Regions from separate parts of the Homo sapiens genome. Here region 1 is linked to region 2. A link means that fine-mapping ties the variant in region 2 to the plasma level of a protein whose gene starts in the linked region. Region 2 holds a variant in brackets. A gene starts in the other region. All regions are shown on their forward strands.

Region 1 (8,879 bases), not on the chromosome of region 2:
AGCTAACCATCACTCCCTGTCTCCTTTTTGCTCTTCCCAGAGTAAGGCACAGAAGCTGGTATGGAACCAATAGCAGGTCAACAAGCATAGAGGATGAAGTAAATAAAACTATCTTTATGAGAATATTTTTCATTATCTGCAGAGGTCTTTATGACATCCCATATGCTTTTAAGAGTGTTATTTCAGCTTGATCCTCATAAGATTCTCCAAAAGGGTCAATATTCTTTATGTAAGGAGAGGAGAGAGGTAGGGCACAGAGGGGCTAGGGGTTGCCCACCCATCAGCCAGGCGCTGGGGTTTGTTGAGTAAGAATTGCCCTCAAGAGGCTCTGAGTACCCAGGCTTGGCAGGTCTTGCCCTCCTCCTTTAACAAGAGGAAAAGCTCTCACATATTCTGTCTCCCGCTTGGACTCGGAGGAGAAGTTCTGGGTATCTGTGCTCTGAGACTCGTAGTCAACTTTGTAGCGCTGGCTGTCTTTAGCATGCCCTTTCTTGATGATGATTATCTTTGAATGGAGGGGGTGGAACTTGGGATCAGACACCCGGTGCGTGCTGGAGACGGACGGGCTCTCCACACTGCCGGCGCTGCGGTCTTCCTCCGACTCACTAGCATTTCCTTAAAACGCCCAAGAGAGACAAACACATGAGAGTCATCAATATCTATCACAGTCTTTTAAAAATCTTAACGTTGCAACCAGGTCACATGTAAATGACAATATTAGTTGGCAATCCAAGTGAGTTTTTTTTTTTAAAATACCTCGATGAAGTATTATTCCATCATACTACTCACTACATGGTGGTTGCTCTACCTCAAGAAGTTATCTGTTTGAAAGTCAATCTGACAGGTGCTCTTCCTAAGTAGCTGCAACTAAAGAAGGCAGACAAACGCTTCAGTGCCCCTCAGTAGGTGAAGGCAGTATGCTTCATCTTCCACCGGCAGGGGGCAGACCTGAGCCACGGGAGGCTGCTGCAGCGCCGGCTCAGAAATTTTGCAGTCAACTCCAAGTGTGGTCCTCCCACCCGCGGGAGCAGCGGCAGCCCGGGGACTTGGAAGAAATGCACATTCTCCACTCCGGAAACGCTGGAGTGGCGGCAGCAGTCTGAGTTGTAACAAGCCCTTATGGGAATTCCAAGGTTGACCAGTACCGTCCTCAATGCTACCAGGTAAACACGCTTATAAGAGCTTGGTGTCCAGCTCAGATGGGAAAACTGAATTATTACCTGCAAAGCGTTTTGCCTCAGGGGCTCAGAATCATGCAAGCATGTTGGTGGCTTGTTTTCTAGGTCCCCGTTACATCTCTAAAACTCAAGGTCTACACAGACCCTGTGCATCTTGCTGGTGCCTGCCTAAGTGAGTCCTTTTCACCCCGGGTGAACACAGCAGCACATGGATGCAGACAATGCCAAAGTCCCACTCACGGCTCAGACTTCTAAGTGCCAAAGAGCTTTTCCTTCCCTGGGTGGGGGTGGGGTAGGAGAAATCCCCCTCCAGCAGATCTCCCTTTTATAATAAAAAGTGCTAAATGAAGAAAGTCTGATGCTTAAAATGGATGCTGGAATGTTAACAGTTGAATTGGAATTTTAAGTATATGACTAAATTCAAGACTGGATCTGCAGCCAGGATTCTCACTCCATTCCTTCTTCAGAATGAACTTGGAGGGGCTGTAAGACCGCTATGGGGATCAAAGGCTACATTCAGAGCCCATGCTCCCAGGGCCTGTGGACCATGCCAAGGTCTGGAGGCATCGGCTTAAGTCCACAATTGAGAGTCATGAAATTTCTCTACTACAACAAACAGGGCTATAATGTGTAACCCTAGCAGGGAGCTCAGGTGGCCCATCTGGTCCACAGTCTATTCTAGAAAGCTACCTGGGGCTGCAATGATTTGGCTGCAGATGCTCTGCTCTCCCCTGGAAGTGGCTACTGGCAGGTCACTCACCAGGGCCTTAGGAAAGTCCCTCTCCTCTCTGGGTCTTAGTTTCCTCACCTGCCAAACAGCTCACTGAGGTCCTGCTGTAAAGTTCCCCAAGGGGTTTCATACCTTGGGAAGCACACATTCCCAGGGTCCAGCACAGAGCCTCACAGAGGAGGTCCCTACCTGCGAGGATTTGGTTTCAATTTCTTTTAATCTTAGCTTGCTTTCTTTTTCAAGGAAATACTGAGATAAAAGAGATACTAAGAATGTAAATACTCTAAGAACATGTAAATAAACGTATTTATACTTCTTTTCTAAGAACCTTGAGTAATTTCTTAAATTTCCTTGGTTTCTTCTTAATGCCTGGGCTGCAGACTAGGGCATGAAGACAAAACAGTTCTATTTAAGCAACAGATAATTGTGACTTTTGACTGTCGAAAATTTACCTTTTTTTGTCAAATAGATTCTAGAAGTCACTTAGATCTTTTTATAATCTTATAACTCACATCAACCTATACTACAGTGCTACTAAGGTGGTAATCATGATGATTGCTAAAGCCCAAGAATGACGATGTGTATCAGTATTTCTAAGATCACTTTTTGAATACCCCAAAATGCACAATAATGTACGACACTTGGCAAATGACATAACTTTGCCCCGAGAGACAAATGCCTCCAGCAGCTTTAACAGCTGACCAGAGCCAGTGTATGTTTCAGGCATCTTGCCTTTCCATGAATCCAGCATTTCTCAGGGGTGAACAGAGCCAGCCTTGCCGAGCCAGAAAATAACTTCACCCGGGCGTGGAACTCTACAGCTACATAAATTATAAAGGGACTGTTCATCCTGCTAGCCCTAGATGGGGGCCTGCCCAGTGACATCTGTCCAACGTGATCGTTGGGGAGTTGGGGGAATTAGGATGGGGAGAATTCTCCCAGCCTTCAGCTGTGCAAGGCAGGAACTTTATTTCTCATATAACTAGGTGAGGCTGGCTAAGAATGCTTGAAAGAACAGCTGCCAAATCCATTTAAACAACCCCCGCTCCTTTTTTTAAGGGAACAATGTGATGCCCTTACCAGAGTCGCTGTCTGCCTGATACTGATAGTGGCTAAGCCAAGAGGGTAACTCTGCCAAATGTTTGCATTTTTCCTCTTCTGGGGCTCCCCTTAACAACATCTCATTCCCCCCCCCATTTCAGATTAAGAAGGGAGACAGCCCTAGGACTGATTCCAATTCCCTTCCGTGTCATTGAAATTGACTTAGTCCACATTGCCCGCACCCACCACGCACCTGGAAGTTTGTTTGAGGTCGGCGCAGGTGCAGGGGTGGCCCGAGTTGTAAGAATGGTATGGTACTGAAAGTGGCACGCGGAGTTCAAACCTACACTCTGTTGTGGCCGCTGGGTAACCTTAAGAAGTTACTTCTTTTTCAGCTTCAGGTTTTCCAACCGCAGAAGATATCAAAACCCGAATCCACTTTACTTGTTTTTGGACATACCGGGACTAGACATTGCTTTGCAAACCAAAAGGCTGTGCAAAGTCAGTATTTTAAAAGAGAGGTACTATTTCCTACAACGTGCCTGCCCACCTTCCTTGGTCCAAATCCGCCTATATCCCCCCCATCCCCAAGCATCCCTGGGATTGCAGTCCGTGTGCACCCCCGTGCGGGGCGAGGAGAATCTCCTGTGTCCAGGATCTTTCCAACAGCTAAACATCGGTACCGCTCCCCTCAGCTCCGGAAACCTTTAACCCATTTTCACTGAAAGCGCTTTGCAATTTACAAGTACTCTGCACTTAGAGAATCGAGCAAGTAGAGGGCCGGCTGGGGAGGGTCCCTCCGGCGACCGCCTTCACCTTTCCCGGAGCGCCTTCAGTTTCCCCACATATTATCTCCAGTGAGAAGAAAAGCGGAGTCTCCCGCAGCGGCACCCAGCAACCCCCAGGCCCTTCGGCGCCAGTGCGCCGGGTGCTGCACGCAGCGCACCTGGCGCGGGCGGCTCACCTGGAGCTGGCGGCGCTGGCAGCAGGTAGGCGCGCAGGCGGCTGACGGCACTAGCGTTGACGCAGAGCCCGCGGCCGTCCAGCAGCGCCTGCAGCGGTCGCGCCTCGTCGGGCGACGGCTGGCAGCGAAGGCCGGAGCCACAGCGCTCGGTGTAGATGCCGCACGGCTGGCCCTCGCTCAGTGCGCACGTCAGGCAGCAGCCGCAGCCCGGCTCGCGCACCAGCTCCGCGCACACGGCGGGCGGAGGCGCGCACTGGGCCAGTGCACGCGCGTCGCACGGCTCGCAGCGCACCACGGGACCCAAGCCCGCCGAGCTCGCGCCAGCCCGCGCCACCGGCGGCCCGCGGAGCAGCACCAGCAGAGTCAGCGCAGCGGCCCAGAGCGTGGGTCGCGCCCGCTGCATGACGCCTGCAACCGGGGCACGCTGCTTGGCAGGCTGGGCGCGCAGGGATGGGGCGACAGTACACGGCGCGAAGCTGTGGAATCCAGGCAGGAAGCGGCTGATCCTCAGCGCCCAGCCGCAGTGCTCGCATCTGGGCGGCCCGGGCGCGCCGGCCGCTATATAGAAGCCGGGGTGGCCCAGGACACGCCCCGGAACGGCGCGCCCAGGAGTGGGGGTTGGGAGGGGGGCGGGTCGGCGCAGGCACGGCTGCGGGGGCCCGTGCTTCGCCCTGAGCAGCCGGGGCCGAGCTCGGGGGCGTGCAGCTCGAGACTCGCCCGGGCACCTGCTCCTCGTGCGCACGCCCGGAGCCCGGGTCACCTTGTCGTCTACAAGAACCAAGGTGTGCCCGGCCACCCCGGCACTCCAGGCCACCTCAGCACCCCCGGTCACCCCAGTCACTCCTGGCCAACTCAGCACCCCCGATCTCCTTGACCCCGCCGCCCTTACCCCTTCCGCTCTCGGGGTGAGGTCTCCCTGCGGCGAGCCGGTGTCGGGGAAACTGGCATACAGCGCTCCGCATTCGTGTGTACCTCGTGGAGCTTTCTAAAATTTAATTCCGTTGGCAGGCGAAGTCTTGGGACATTTCTGACTTACATTTGGGTCTCAGGGAGCCAAGGCACTGCGGGGTTTAATTTACACCCGCTGGGCTGTTTATATCCCCAGGGGCCCACAAATACGCATCTGAAGATGCGCCCGGGGCCTTCGCCCCTTTCCAGGCTTACTTCTCAACGCAAGAAGACTCTCACGTGTTGCTACACCGCAAGTCTCCAATTAAGAGTGGACCGGCAAGCGAATGCGTCCTTAAGGCAGGGCTTTTCAAATATTTTAAATGACAACTGTTCTTCTTGTCTTGGGTATTCTCCCTGATTATGTTTTCAAATGGAGTTTACACCCATGACAAAAGAATAATAAAGACAATAAACTGGGCACTGCTGAAACGTAATTAACCAAATAGTCCTTTAATAGGCAATTTTCATTGTCATTTTTTGAAGGCGACTTCGTATTACTGTATTCTCGATGCGTTGGGATTCTAGCTTATCTCTGCAATCTAAACACTTTTCAGTAAAGTTCGGGGGCGCAATTGCGCGCTGAGGTCGCTGTAACTCCTGTCGGCCTTCTCTGGCACTCGAGTTTCTTCAGTTTTGTCTGCGCACCCCCTCCCTTCGGTGACCAACAGAGGACGCTGGTGGTCCAGGATTGGATTGAGGATTAAATTTTTCAAGGCACTTTTCCAAAGAGTTTGTGGGGGTGGAGTGGGAAGCGGTGAGACCTCCGCGGGAGGAGACTTTCCTGAACGCTGTTGAAATTGGACGCTTGCCTTAGGAGGTGGATAGGTGACTTGAAGGAGCCCTTTGCAGTTTGGAGTAGTAATAGCAAATCAGGAGCTCCTCCATTCCCCTCCAGCACGAAGCCTTGGGTGAAGTTAATCTTCATTCATCATTTCTGTCTCTCCTAATCGATCTCTCGCCCAGTGTCTCTCCTTGTCCCTCTCCCTCCCTTTCTCTCTCTCGTCCTCTCCCCTTTTCCCCCTGTCCACCTCTTCCCCCATATCTATACAGCTTCCTTTTATACATATATACTCTCCTTTTAGAATGGAAAGATCAATTTCGTTCCCTCTTGTACTAAATAAATAAATAATTGGACCTCTACAAATAAAAAGAGACCAAAGACAAGAACAATGGAGTGCCCCGGGGTGACGAAGGCCCAGCACCGTCATTTTCTTATGAGCTCTTCTCCCACAGTGCTCAGGCTGTGGCTACACTCAACCTTGTTTACAGGAAACCGTGCCATAATCGTCGCTTGCTGTTTCCTTTCTCTTGTATCACCTCCTTCTAGTATCTGCGTTGACACCCAAGAACAGGATCTCTGATTTCATTGGAAAATTGAAGGAAACAAAACGAATCCCCCAGGTTTACATCCGTTCCTTAAATACTCGCAGAGACCTTGACTCTGAAATTAGAGCTGGGTTCGGCATCAAATGCAATTCTTGAGGTCCCAGGTCTGCAGTTCTGGTTAGTGCAATGTTGCAGCAGAGCCTGGACTGACCACTGGTTAGTGTAGCACTTTTTATTCAGCTTTATCATCTGGAGAGTGGACAGGGGAAGATCAGAAACAATGTCTTTTTGGAAAGGATTAAAAAATTTGTTTTATTCTTGGTTCTCTTCTTTTTTCCCTCGCATTGCAGTTGGAGAAACTTGTTCAGTGCCGAATGGCTAGGGGGCGCCAAAGCTCCAGGCGTCCAGCCCGGCCTCAGGGACCACGGGACACACGTAAAGACTAAGTCACATTTCAACTTTCAAAGGCTATTCCAATAACAATGTTTTATATAGATTGCCATCACCTTTATCATGACATCTTGCAACAGCAGAGTAAATTTGAGGCAGTGACACGGGGAGAATTGTGTTTTGTTATTTAGCCAGTTTTATTTGATAACTGCAAGCTCCCTGCCCCTCCCGGAACATAATTGTTGCAGGAAGGATTTGGACTGGATAAAACTTAATTTTGTGACATGCTCGTTAATTCTGTTAAACTTCCAATTCATCTGGTGTTTGTAGTTTTTAACATAAACTAGTATTTAGTGAGAAAGATGTTTACCCCCTGTGAAGGTGCTTGGCATACAATTGCTAATCATTGCAAAAGTAGCGAATAACCATCCGAATAGAGGTCAGGAGGCTGCATAGATCTCTTTTCACTAACGGAGTCCAGCTGACCTGATTATAATTAGTGTTTCCTTTGGTCAGCCTCGTTATTTTCACCAGGTGACCTAAACCACTCATTTCTTTGAGCCCACTCCTGCTGCTAAAGGGCACCTTGTCGCTGCGTGATACTGGCTCCTTTGCTTTTCTTCTGCTCAGCCCCCAGCTGGACAAGCCACCCTAGGGTCTCTCTCCTTCTGACAGCACTACTGTTTCTCAGTGTCCTCTGGGGTGTGGCTATCAGTCTTACTGACCACCAATAGACTTAGAACAGAAAGAGCCAAACTTCTAAAGGCAAGCAGTGTTGGGGACCCAGTTGCTAGGACTCAGTGGCTCTCACCCTATAAGCTTCAGGTTTTTTTTCCCCTTTAGGGGACGTATTGGTGGAGACAGGAAATCTAATTTTCTCTCCATCAGATCGCCTGCTGGGTGAGCCTCCCGGAATTACATATACTGGGCTTGGGGATGCATTGGGGACCATCAACTGCCAACATCACGGTGGCTAACAACACTGCAAATGACTTTTACTCACAAATAACATCATTAAGAGTTCATCTATCCACTTAGTCCAAGAATGATTACTAAGCACCTCCATGTGCCAGCTGCAGGATTTCACAGGCTGGCTGGAGTGACTCACCAGAGTCCAGACAGTGGTAGGCAGTGTGACAGCAGAGAAAACAGAGAGGTTCACCGGGTGCATTTATAACCCTGCTGGAGGGATGGCAAACCTGTCCGTGTGGTCAGAAAAAACTTCTGAGAGGTGGTGGCATTTGAATTGAGTCTTAAACAATGTGGGAGAGTCCAGCTGAGAGAGGCAGGCAAGAAGAAAGTATGGGCATCCACAGAGAGTCATTCTGTGTGCCTGGAGGGACGAGGGGAGGGCTCAGAGGGGATGGTGTTGGCATTGTGCATGTGACCTGTGGAAGGCATAATTCTGAGATTTGGAAGAGAAGAGAAGGTAACTGGATATACTGGATGGGGACAGTGGTACCTGTGGCAGTGGAAATCCATGGTCCAGAGACAGGGGCTCCTCAGAGTTAGTGCTGTCCCGTGTCGTCAGACAATCTGGAGATAGATGCTCCAGAGAAGGGGCCTGGACATTGGGAGCCCACCCCATGGAAGGGAGGTTTCTGCTCAGGACAATGATACTCCTGTCATGGCTTTCTCTCACAATAGTGCTACCTTCTACATGTGGGCACCCACACCCTTGCCTACACAGTTAGTCATTTACATGATAAGAGTTACCTCTGTGTCTCCTGGTCATTCAAACAGAGGCAATTCCTGACTCTGTCTAACTTCCAACTTTTCTTCAAGGTTGAAGCTTCAGAACAATGAGAGAGACTGGGGACTTCAATCACAGTAGACTAGAGTTTATTCTTAACTGCTTGCTCAGTTCTCCTCTCAATAGCTTTCTGACATTGGGCAAGTTCTGCAACTCAATTCTAGGACCAGGTAAGGGCACTAGTACCTATCTTACAGCACTGATGGAAGGATGAACTCTTAGACACAGTGTTGCCTGGGGAATGGGAAATAAAAGTTCATCCTTGTGTTCACATAGCCACCTGAACAATCTTAAAGGTTTTATTCTCAAATGAGTCCTAGCACACAGCCCACATACCTTGTCTCCTTAGTTCAAATGTCAACATGCTAACAATTGAGTCTACCTGTGGGCATGACATACAGTCTTCAAACTGGCCAACAGTCTAGTATGGTCTTTCCCTGCCCAGTGAAGTCTTAAAAGGGGACAGGAAAGATTTTAGGAGCACTTTTCATTCAGCTGGTTTGTCCCCGGCACCAGTGTCAATCCTGTGTCTTTACCCAAGGGCAT
Region 2 (9,024 bases):
CTACTCAGGGGGCTGAGGTGGGAGGATCGCTTGAGCACAGGTCGAGGCTACAGTGAGCCAAGACTGTGCTACTGCCCTCCAGCCTGGGTGACAGCGACATCACGTCTCAAAAAATGCTTCAGAACACCTCCTGGTAACCTTAGGACACTGCCCGACTGACAAGGCTGAGAAGGCAAGGTGAGCAGAGCCCGGCGGGTGTGCGCGTGTGGAAGAGGGAAGAGAAGCCAGCGTCCGGGATGAGCCACACATCCGCCTTCCCGCACCGGCCTGGAGAGGACGACAGGGACGGAGCTTCCTTTTCATTCACATGGTTTACATTTCACATTATGGAGGTAACAGCAATGCAGGAGACACAGAAAAGAAACCGCCACAGCTGCAGCCTCACAGCAAGCACGGGGAGGAGGGGCACAGGGACCAGCAGCAGGGGAGGCCACCCAAGCCCCTGCAGGCAGGCAGCTGGTCACCTCCTCTCGAGATGGAGATGGTCTCCCTTCCGACCAGCACTGACCAGGGCAGATGGGGTGGGGGCGGGGGGAGGAGAATGCAAACCCAGCCACGGGGCCAACAGTTAGCAGGAAAACACAGGGCGGCAACAGCGGGGTCTCCACACAGCCCCGGCCCTTCTACCGCAGCCGCACCAGGAGGGCCTCAGGGCAGAGCTCTGACAGAAGCTGCTGGTGCCCACGCACAGGCTCAAGACCACCGCGCCTCACCCCCGAGGTTCCCCACCCGCTATGGGCAGTGGTGTCGGTGAGTGACTCTTCAGCTGGTAGAGCTGCACCAAGCGGGGGTCTGGTAGATGCCAAGATGGTTTCTCACTAATCTGTTCTTCCCTTCTGGCGAAAAGAATCTGAGAATGTTTTAAAATATTCCCTGTGTTCCCACCAACATTCTCAATCCTAAGAAATCTCCCTCTGCCTCCTACGAGGGAAGCAAAGTTAACACTTCTAAGGAGACCTTTAAAACAGAGGAAGTACAAATTGTCATAAGCTTTTAGGTTACCTATTAAAACGAGTTTTAATGTTCTAGCTATTTTTCCTACAAAGTACGAAGCATTTAAAGACAAAAATAAGGTCAGTCAGCCGAGCGCAGTGGCTCACGCCTGTAATCCTAACACTTTGGGAGGCCGAGGTGGGTGGATTGCCTGAACTCAGGAGTTCGAGACCAGCCTGGGCAACACGGTGAAACCCCATCTCTACTAAAATAGAAAAAATCAGCCGGGTGTGGTGGCGGGTGCCTGTAATCCCAGCTACTGGAGAAGCTGAGGCAGGAGAATCACTTGAACCCAGGAGGTGGAGGCTGCAGCGAGCCAAGACCATGCCACTGCACTCCAGCCTGGGCAGCAGAGCAAGACACTGTCTCCCAAAGAAAGAACAACAGGCCGGGCGCGGTTGCTCACACCTGTAATCCCAGCACTGGGGGAGGCTGAGGCAGGTGGATCACCTGAGGTCAGGAGTTTGAGACCGGCCTGGCCAACATGGTGAAACCCCGTCTCTACTAAAAATACAAAAATTAGCCAGACGTGGTGGCACATGTCTGTAATTCCAGCTACTTGGGAGGCTGAGGCAGGAGAATCGCTTGAACCCGGGAGGCGGAGGCTGCAGTAGTGAGCCGAGATCGCACCACTGCACTCCAGCTTGGGTGACAGAGTGAGACTCTGCCTCAAAAAAATAAAAATAAAAAAATAAGGTCAGTCCTTGCAGCACAGCTCAGAAGAGCTCCACCTCGTGTGGGTTCTGGACTCCAGGGTGCAAAAGGAGTTGAAAACTCTCAACGTCCCTCCTATGGGGATTGGTAAAATGATTTATGGGTGACACCCACGCAATAGTATATTTTACACCTATCAAAAAGAATGAGGCCGGGTGTGGTTGGCACATGCCTGTAATCCCAGCACTTTGGGAGGCCAAGGCAGGAGGATCACTTGAGCCCAGAAGTTCAAGACCAGCCTAGGCAACATCGTGTAAACCCCCTCTCTACCAAAAATACAAAAATTAACCAAGCATGATGGCACAGGCCTGTAGTCCCAGGTACGGGAGACTGAGGCAGCAGAATCGCCTGAACCCAGGAGGCGGAGGTTGCAGTGAGCCGAGATTGTGCCACTGCACTCCAGCCTGGGCAGCAGAGCAAGACGCTGTCTCTCCCCAACCAAAAAAAAAAAAAAAAAGAATGACAGGCCAGGCACAGTGGCTCACGCCTGTAATCCCAGCACTTTGGGAGGCTGAGGCGGGCAGATCACGAAGTCAGGAGTTTGAGATCAGCCTGGCCAACATGGTAAAACCCCATCTCTACTAAAAATATAAAAATTACCCAGGCATGGTGGCACATGCCTGTAGTCCCAGCTACTTGGGAGGCTGAGGCATGAGAATCGCTTGAACCCGGGAGGCAGGGGTTGCGGTGAGCCGAGATCGCGCCATTGCACTCCAGCCTGGGCGGCAAGAGCGAAACGCTGTCTCAAAAAAAAAAAAAAACAAAAAAAAAACACACAAATTGTCAAAATCAGGAATGAAAGCAGGAATATCATTACAGATCCAGCAGACATTTGGGGGGTGGGAGTTCATACTAAGTTTTAAAACTATACAAATTCCAAAAATAAAATACAGGAGAAAATTTTTTGACCTTGGGATAAACAAAGATTTCTTAGATGGGAGACAAAAAAGAATGAAGCATAAAAGAATCTATTGGACTTCATTAAAATTAAAAATGTTGGCTCAAAAGATACTGCTAAGAAAACCAGAGGCCGCAGAATGGGAGGCGCCCTGCAGGAGGCGGCCTCTCACCAGGGACTGGGCTCCAGCACCTCCTTTCAAACGGCTGGCTCCACCGCGTGGGCTGGCTCCACCGTGTGGTGTGCCGAAAGACACGGACCAGCTGGTGTGCCCACGCCTTCCCAGCAGGAAAGCAAACACCACAAGCACCGGGGAAGGGGAGTTTGGCAGTTTCTTTAAAAGTCAAACACACCTCCCGTCCAGCCCGGCCACTCCCTTCTCCTGGGTGTTCACACGGGGCTGCGGCTGGGATGTCCATCCCTCCAAACGCATGCTCAAATCTGATCCCCAATTAATG[G/A]AGGTGTTTGGATCATGGGGGGAATCCTTTGTGAACGGCTTGGTGCCCTGCTCCAAGTGCGAGTTTTTGCTGTTAGTTCCCACAGGATCTGGTTGTTTAAAAGAAACTTTTGCCTCCCCCACTCTCTCCTTCCTCTGGCCACATGCTTCACACCCACCAGCTCCTTTCGCCTTCTGCCATGAGCAGAAGCAGCCTGAGGCCTCACCAGGTGCAGACGCCCAGGCCATGCTGCTTATATAGCCTGCATAACCATGAGCCACATAAACCTCCTTTTATAAGTCACCCGGCCTCAAGTATTCCTTTATAGCAACACCACACAGACTAAGACACCCAGGAAGTTAATACGCATCCACTGTATTTATAACTAGTATCAACAAATAATCATGACCAGAAGTGCTTAGGGATCCATTTAGTAACACGTGCAAGACCTTGAACACGCAAATTTCAAAACACTGCTGAGAAAAGCTAAAGACATTCATAGATGGAAAGCTCACAGAAACACTCAATGTTAAGATCGCAATTCTCGCCACATCAGTTATCACAACAGTCCCAATCAGCAGCCAGGCTAGCTTTTCTGATAGAAGTTCACGAGATGATTCTGAAAACGGAAATGTAAAAGGCTTAAAACAACTAAAACCATTTTGAAAAAGAACACTGGAGGATTCACACATACCAGTGCCAAGACTCAGCACAGAGTTACAGTCATCAAGGTGCTGTCCTCGGACACCGTGGCAAGTCATAGAGACCAACGAAACAGAGCAGAGACCAGAAGCAGACTCGGGCATAGAGGGCCCATTCTTTTCAGAAAGGTGCCAAGGCAATCCAGGGAGGAAAGGACAGTCCTTCGACAGACAGCCCTGAACACCTCGGGATCACACTGCGAGAGGGTGAACCTCTACCCTCACCTCGCACCACACACAAACACCATCTTGAAAGGGAACACTGTAAATTGTTTGTAAATATAAAAGCTAAGACTTTAAAACTTCTAGGAAGAAACACAGGAGAAAGTCTTTGTGAGCTAAGGGTATGCAAAGATATCTTAGAAAGGGCACAAGAAACATAAAAGAAAAATTGAGTAGGCCGGGCGCAGTGGCTCACATCTGTAATCCCAGCACTTTTGGAGCCCAAGGTGGGCAGATCACCTGAGGTCAGGAGTTCGAGTCCAGCCTGATCAACATGGAGAAACCCCATCTCTACTAAAAATACAAAATTAACCGGGTGTGGTGGTGCATGCCTGTAATCCCAGCTACTCGGGAGGCTGAGGCAGGAGAATCGCTTAAACCCAGGAGGTGGATGTTGCGGTGAGCTGAGATCGCGCCGCTGCACTCCAGCCTGGGCAACAAGAGTGAAACTCCGTCTCAAAAAAAAAAAAAAGAAACAAACAAAAAATAAGTAAATGGAACTTCACCAAAACTATAAACTATTTTCCAAAAGACAATGTTAAGAAAATGAAAAGGCAAGCCATGAGCTGGGAGAGAAAAACATCTTTTAAATATATATCTCAGCTGGGCGTGGTGGGTCACGCCTGTAATCCCAGCACTTTGGGAGGCCGAGGCGGGTGGATCACGAGGTCAGGAGATCGAGACCTTCCTGGATAACACGGTGAAACCCATCTCTACTAAAAATACAAAAAATTAGCTGGGCGTGGTGACGGGCACCTGTAGTCCCAGCTACTTGGGAGGCTGAGGCAGGAGAATGGCTTGAACCCGGGAGGCAGAGCTTGCAGTGAGATGAGATCACACCACTGCACTCCAGCCTGGGCGACAGAGCAAGACTTTGTCTCAAAAAACAAACAAATAAATATATATATGTATATACACACACACACACACACACACACACATATATATATATATCTCACAAAGACTTGTTTCCAGATGATATAAGGAACTCTTACAAGAGCAGCCCAACAGGCCAAACCCAATATTTAAAATGGACAAAAGATTGAACATAAACTTCATGAGAAGGCATCCAAAGGCCGACACACATGAAAAGATGGTCACATGGGGAAATCCACATTTTAAAGGCAGTGAGACGCCACCACAGGCAAGTTAGAATGGCAAAAATTGGAGAGACCGACAACACCAAGCAGTGCTGGCACAGCATGGAGGCCCCGGAACTCAAGCATTGGTGGGGGACTGTAGAACAGTACAACCATTTTTGGAAAACGGTTCACACCTTTAACCACACAACACAGCAATTCCACTCTTAGGTAGTATCCAAGAGCAATAAAAACATGTTCACAAAAGACTTGTACACAAATGTCCATAGCAGCTTTATTCAAATAGCAAAAAACTGGAAACAGACAAATGCATAAACAAATTGTAGCATTTCCACACAATGGGCTACTCAGAAGCAAAGAGCGTGGCTGACCCTCACCAACATCAGCGGGGCCGAGAATGCCACAGAGATGACGGAGCAATGAGATTCTGTTCATGGGAAACTAGAAAGTGACCTGAGGTCACAGCAGAGCAACAGCTGGCGGGGACGCCACATGGGAGGGACACAGGAGCCTTTGGGGTAGTGGTAAGTTCCACATCTGGACTGTGGAGGGGATTACACAAGTGCAAACATCATCAACATTCCTCAAACTGCAATCTGTCCACTCAAGACAGACACACGGGCCAGGTGACGTGGCTCACGCCTGTAATCTCAGCACTTTGGGAGGCCAAGGCAGGCGGATTACCTGAAGTCAGGAGTTCAAGACGAGCCTGGCCAACATGGCAAAACCCTATCTCTACTAAAAGTAGAAAAATTAGCTGGGCGTGTTGGCTGGCGCCTGTAATCCCAGCTACTCAAGAGGCTGAGGCAGGGAGAATTTTTTTTTTTTTTTTTTTTTTTTTTTGAGACGGAGTCTCGCTCTGTCACCAGGCTGGAGCGCAGTGGAGCGATCTTGGCTCACTGCAACCTCTGCCTCCTGGGTTCAAGCGATTCTCCTGCCTCAGCCTCCTGAGTAGTTGGGATTACAAGCGTGAGCCACCACGCCCGGCCAGCAGGGAGAATTTCTTGAACCCGGGAGGTGCTGGTTGCAGTGAGCCGAGATTACGCCACTGTACTCCAGCCTGGGCGACAGAGGGAGACTCCGTCTCAAAAAAAAATTAAAAAAAAAAAAAAGATGAGTATTTATGATTCATCTGATTTAGAGTTGGAATTTGCATGAGTAAATACTGTAAAATAATGTTAACCTCTACTCTAAGAAATTGAAAAAGATGCTCAAAAAACCGGGTGATTTATTTAAAACAACCCTGTCAGAGGCAGCGACTCTCACTCCACTCAGCAGAGGGAGCCCACGCCTGAGACCACCCAGGCGTGCGTGCTTGTGACACCGTTTCCAGTGAATTCGGGGAAACACACCCCTGGAGAACCCCGTCCTGCTCCTGGCAGACTTTGGCCCAGCTGGCCTGGGCTACGCCATGGAGGCTCACGTGGGGCCACCGTGGAGATAAGAGTCCTTTGGACACAGAGCCACGTTCTGTGGCCTGGAGAGCCAGCAGAGCCACGTGCTGCCAGCCTGACCCTACTGCTCAGAATGTGGGAACAGGCTGGGCGCTTTTTACACACGCAGCGTCTGAGGCCTACTCCAGACCCTCCGAGGCAGAGGGATCTCCATAGAACCCCTGGGTTTGCCGTGCAGGGCGAGCTGGGCCACACTGGCCTGAATCCCAGGCCTGCTCTCTGGGCTCAGAGTGTGAGTGTCTACCCACTCTGGCGACCCCGCTGTGCACAGCGGCCCTGAGCAGCCCACAGGAAGGCACTGCGCAGTGACGGCCCCACTCACCTTGGCCCAGGCCAGCTTCTCCCGGATGGCGGCATTGCCGGGCTCCACGTGGCGTGCAAACTTGAGGTTGTTGATGGTGTACTCGTGGCCACAGTAGACTCTCTGAGGAGAGAGGTGACAGGTGAGCTCGGAAGGCTGTTACCACCTGTGAAAGTCCTCAGGGACGGGACCTGGATGCCCCCGGGGGGTGTCCGGTGAGAGGGTGCCAGGAGGGAGAGCAGCCCCGCCCTGGTTAAGGCCCCCCACACCCCGGCCCGCAGGGAGGCGCTGCCTACTGTGTCCGGGGGGAGCCGGCCCAAGACCTCCAGCAGAGCTTTACACATCTCATCCGCAGTCCCTTCATAGAACTTCCCGCAGCCAGCCACAAACAAGGTGTCACCTGGAAACAAGGACAGCCACGAGGTGGGGGCCACTTGAGGCTGGTGGCTAGGACTCAGGAGGGGGCCAGGAGCAGGGTGACACTCACCGGCAAGGCCCAGGCCCCGAACCCTGGCTGCCCTCCGGCCACGGCTGCCCAGACTCAGCCCCCCTGCATTCCGGCTCCCACATCTCCTTCCAAGTCTCAGCTGACAGTCCAACCACCCAACTGGCCGAGCAGACCCGAAACCCAAGTCACTCCTCCCTCACTGCCCCCAATCCCACCAACTGTGGCTCTGAGACCCTCACAAATCCAGCCCTCTCCCCAAACACGCAGCAGCCCCTCTCAGGCCCATGCCTGGCTCCCATCTTCCCTTGGCCCCAGCAGCCAGCGCCACCCTGTGACCAAGGTCTCACCACCCTGGCTGAGCTGAGCGGGACCACCTCTCACCCATGGCGGAAGATGCGGCCCACACCGCTGGGCACCTCAGGCGCACCCAGGCTCCTTCCGGCCTCGGCCTCAGGACGGCATCCCCACCCCATCACTGCCCAGGCCTCTGTCCCCGCTTGCCCTCCTCTTGCTGCTTCGCGGCTGTCCTGGCCTCGCTGACCTCACGTGGCCGTCTGCCCCAGAAACAGGGCAGTCCCCTGAGAGGAGGGTGCCCAGCACCCAGCACAGTGGAGGCCGCCCCACTTCTCACCACCTGGGGCAGAGAAGCATGCAGCGGTGCTGGGCACAGGCCAAGGCCAGGAGTCCTTCTGGGCACGAGAGATGGGAATGGACGGTGGGGAGCCTGTTCCCCTGAAGGGCCCTAGACCTCGAGTCTGAGGACCAGCAGGAGGCCATGGAGTCCCCAGAGATAGGGAAGGGCAGACAGAGGCGAACTTGGGGCCTGGGGCTTCTGCTCCACAGGGCTGTCCTTGCGCCAGGCACACAGCCCAGGAGGCACAGGTGAGACCCAGGGACTCCGTGCTCGCTGCCCTGAGAAGAATCCTAAATCTGAGGTCCCCAACTCCATCCCTCCCACACCGGCACCACCCAGGCTCATCCCCCAGCCCTGCGCACTGCAGCCTGAAGGCACCTTATCCCTCACAGCGAGGCGCCCGTCCCTCCCGCCATGCCCTCCGCCCTCCTCTGGGGCTCCCTGGCCACACCTTCTCCCTGCACCCCTGGTTTGACTCCACCCAGGGGTCCGAGTGTGGCCCTGGGTCACTCCCACCTGGGTTCAAGGCTGGGGCTGCCACCTCCCACCAGGAGGCCTCCCAGCCGTACAAGGCCCACATCGAGTCACCGGGTGAAACCCCGCACTGTGAGGCCAGTCGGGACAAGGCCACAGTAACAAGCACGGGAGGCAGCCCCCACCACCAGCAGCCTCCGCACCGCCTTAGAAGGCCGCAGCCATGAAGGGCCCGGCCTACAGTGAGGCCGTCCCCCGGCCATATGACCTCCACAGGTGGCTCCACAGGTCTGCAACCACCCTGGGAGGCAGGCAGGGCCCCCAGACTAGCACAGGTCCCTGAGTCCACACTACGGCATCAAGGAACACAGCCCCAGGGCTGAGCCACCCCTCGCCCTGCTGGAAGAAACTGACTCCTTTCCCGTGGGACCCGCCCGGACCCCAGCTGTCCAGCAGTCTCCGCCAGCACAGCCCTTGCTGCAAGCGTAACTTCCTTCCAGACCACGATCCAAACCCATCATGGGAGGAATCGGCCAGCCCCACCATGAGGCTCCCCAGCACCCACCCCTGGGCCCCCTCACACCGGTGCAACAGAGAAGGCCACGAAGCTGCCCCGTGAGCCTGCCTGGCAGGAGACACAGGGTCTTC

Direction of the effects. Alleles are on the strand shown, and positions count from the first base shown. The strength of an association depends on the size of the effect and on how common the allele is.
With allele A in place of G in region 2, the plasma level of the protein whose gene starts at base 4,448 in region 1 is lower (weak association).

What was found. PIP is the posterior inclusion probability: the model's chance that the variant is causal. The UK Biobank Pharma Proteomics Project read protein levels with antibody pairs (Olink). The fine-mapping took linkage between variants from a reference panel, not from the people measured, so its PIPs are less certain.
Region 1: IGFBP3 starts here. The variant in region 2 is fine-mapped to the plasma level of the IGFBP3 protein (UK Biobank, PIP 0.98).

The regions. Positions count from the first base shown.
Region 1 is chr7:45,916,825-45,925,703 of GRCh38, forward strand. It overlaps IGFBP3 (insulin like growth factor binding protein 3), which reads right to left and starts at 4,448. Exons shown (of 5, transcript NM_000598.5): 1 at 3,914-4,448; 2 at 389-615. The coding sequence starts at 4,316. RefSeq lists enhancers at 4,251-4,831, 4,832-5,412.
Region 2 is chr16:1,810,052-1,819,075 of GRCh38, forward strand. HAGH (hydroxyacylglutathione hydrolase) reads right to left here. Exons shown (of 9, transcript NM_005326.6): 6 at 7,117-7,220; 7 at 6,842-6,943. Among named protein-coding and RNA genes, the nearest start is that of HAGH, 12 kb to the right of the region's middle. The variant G/A (reference allele first, on the strand shown) is at 3,064.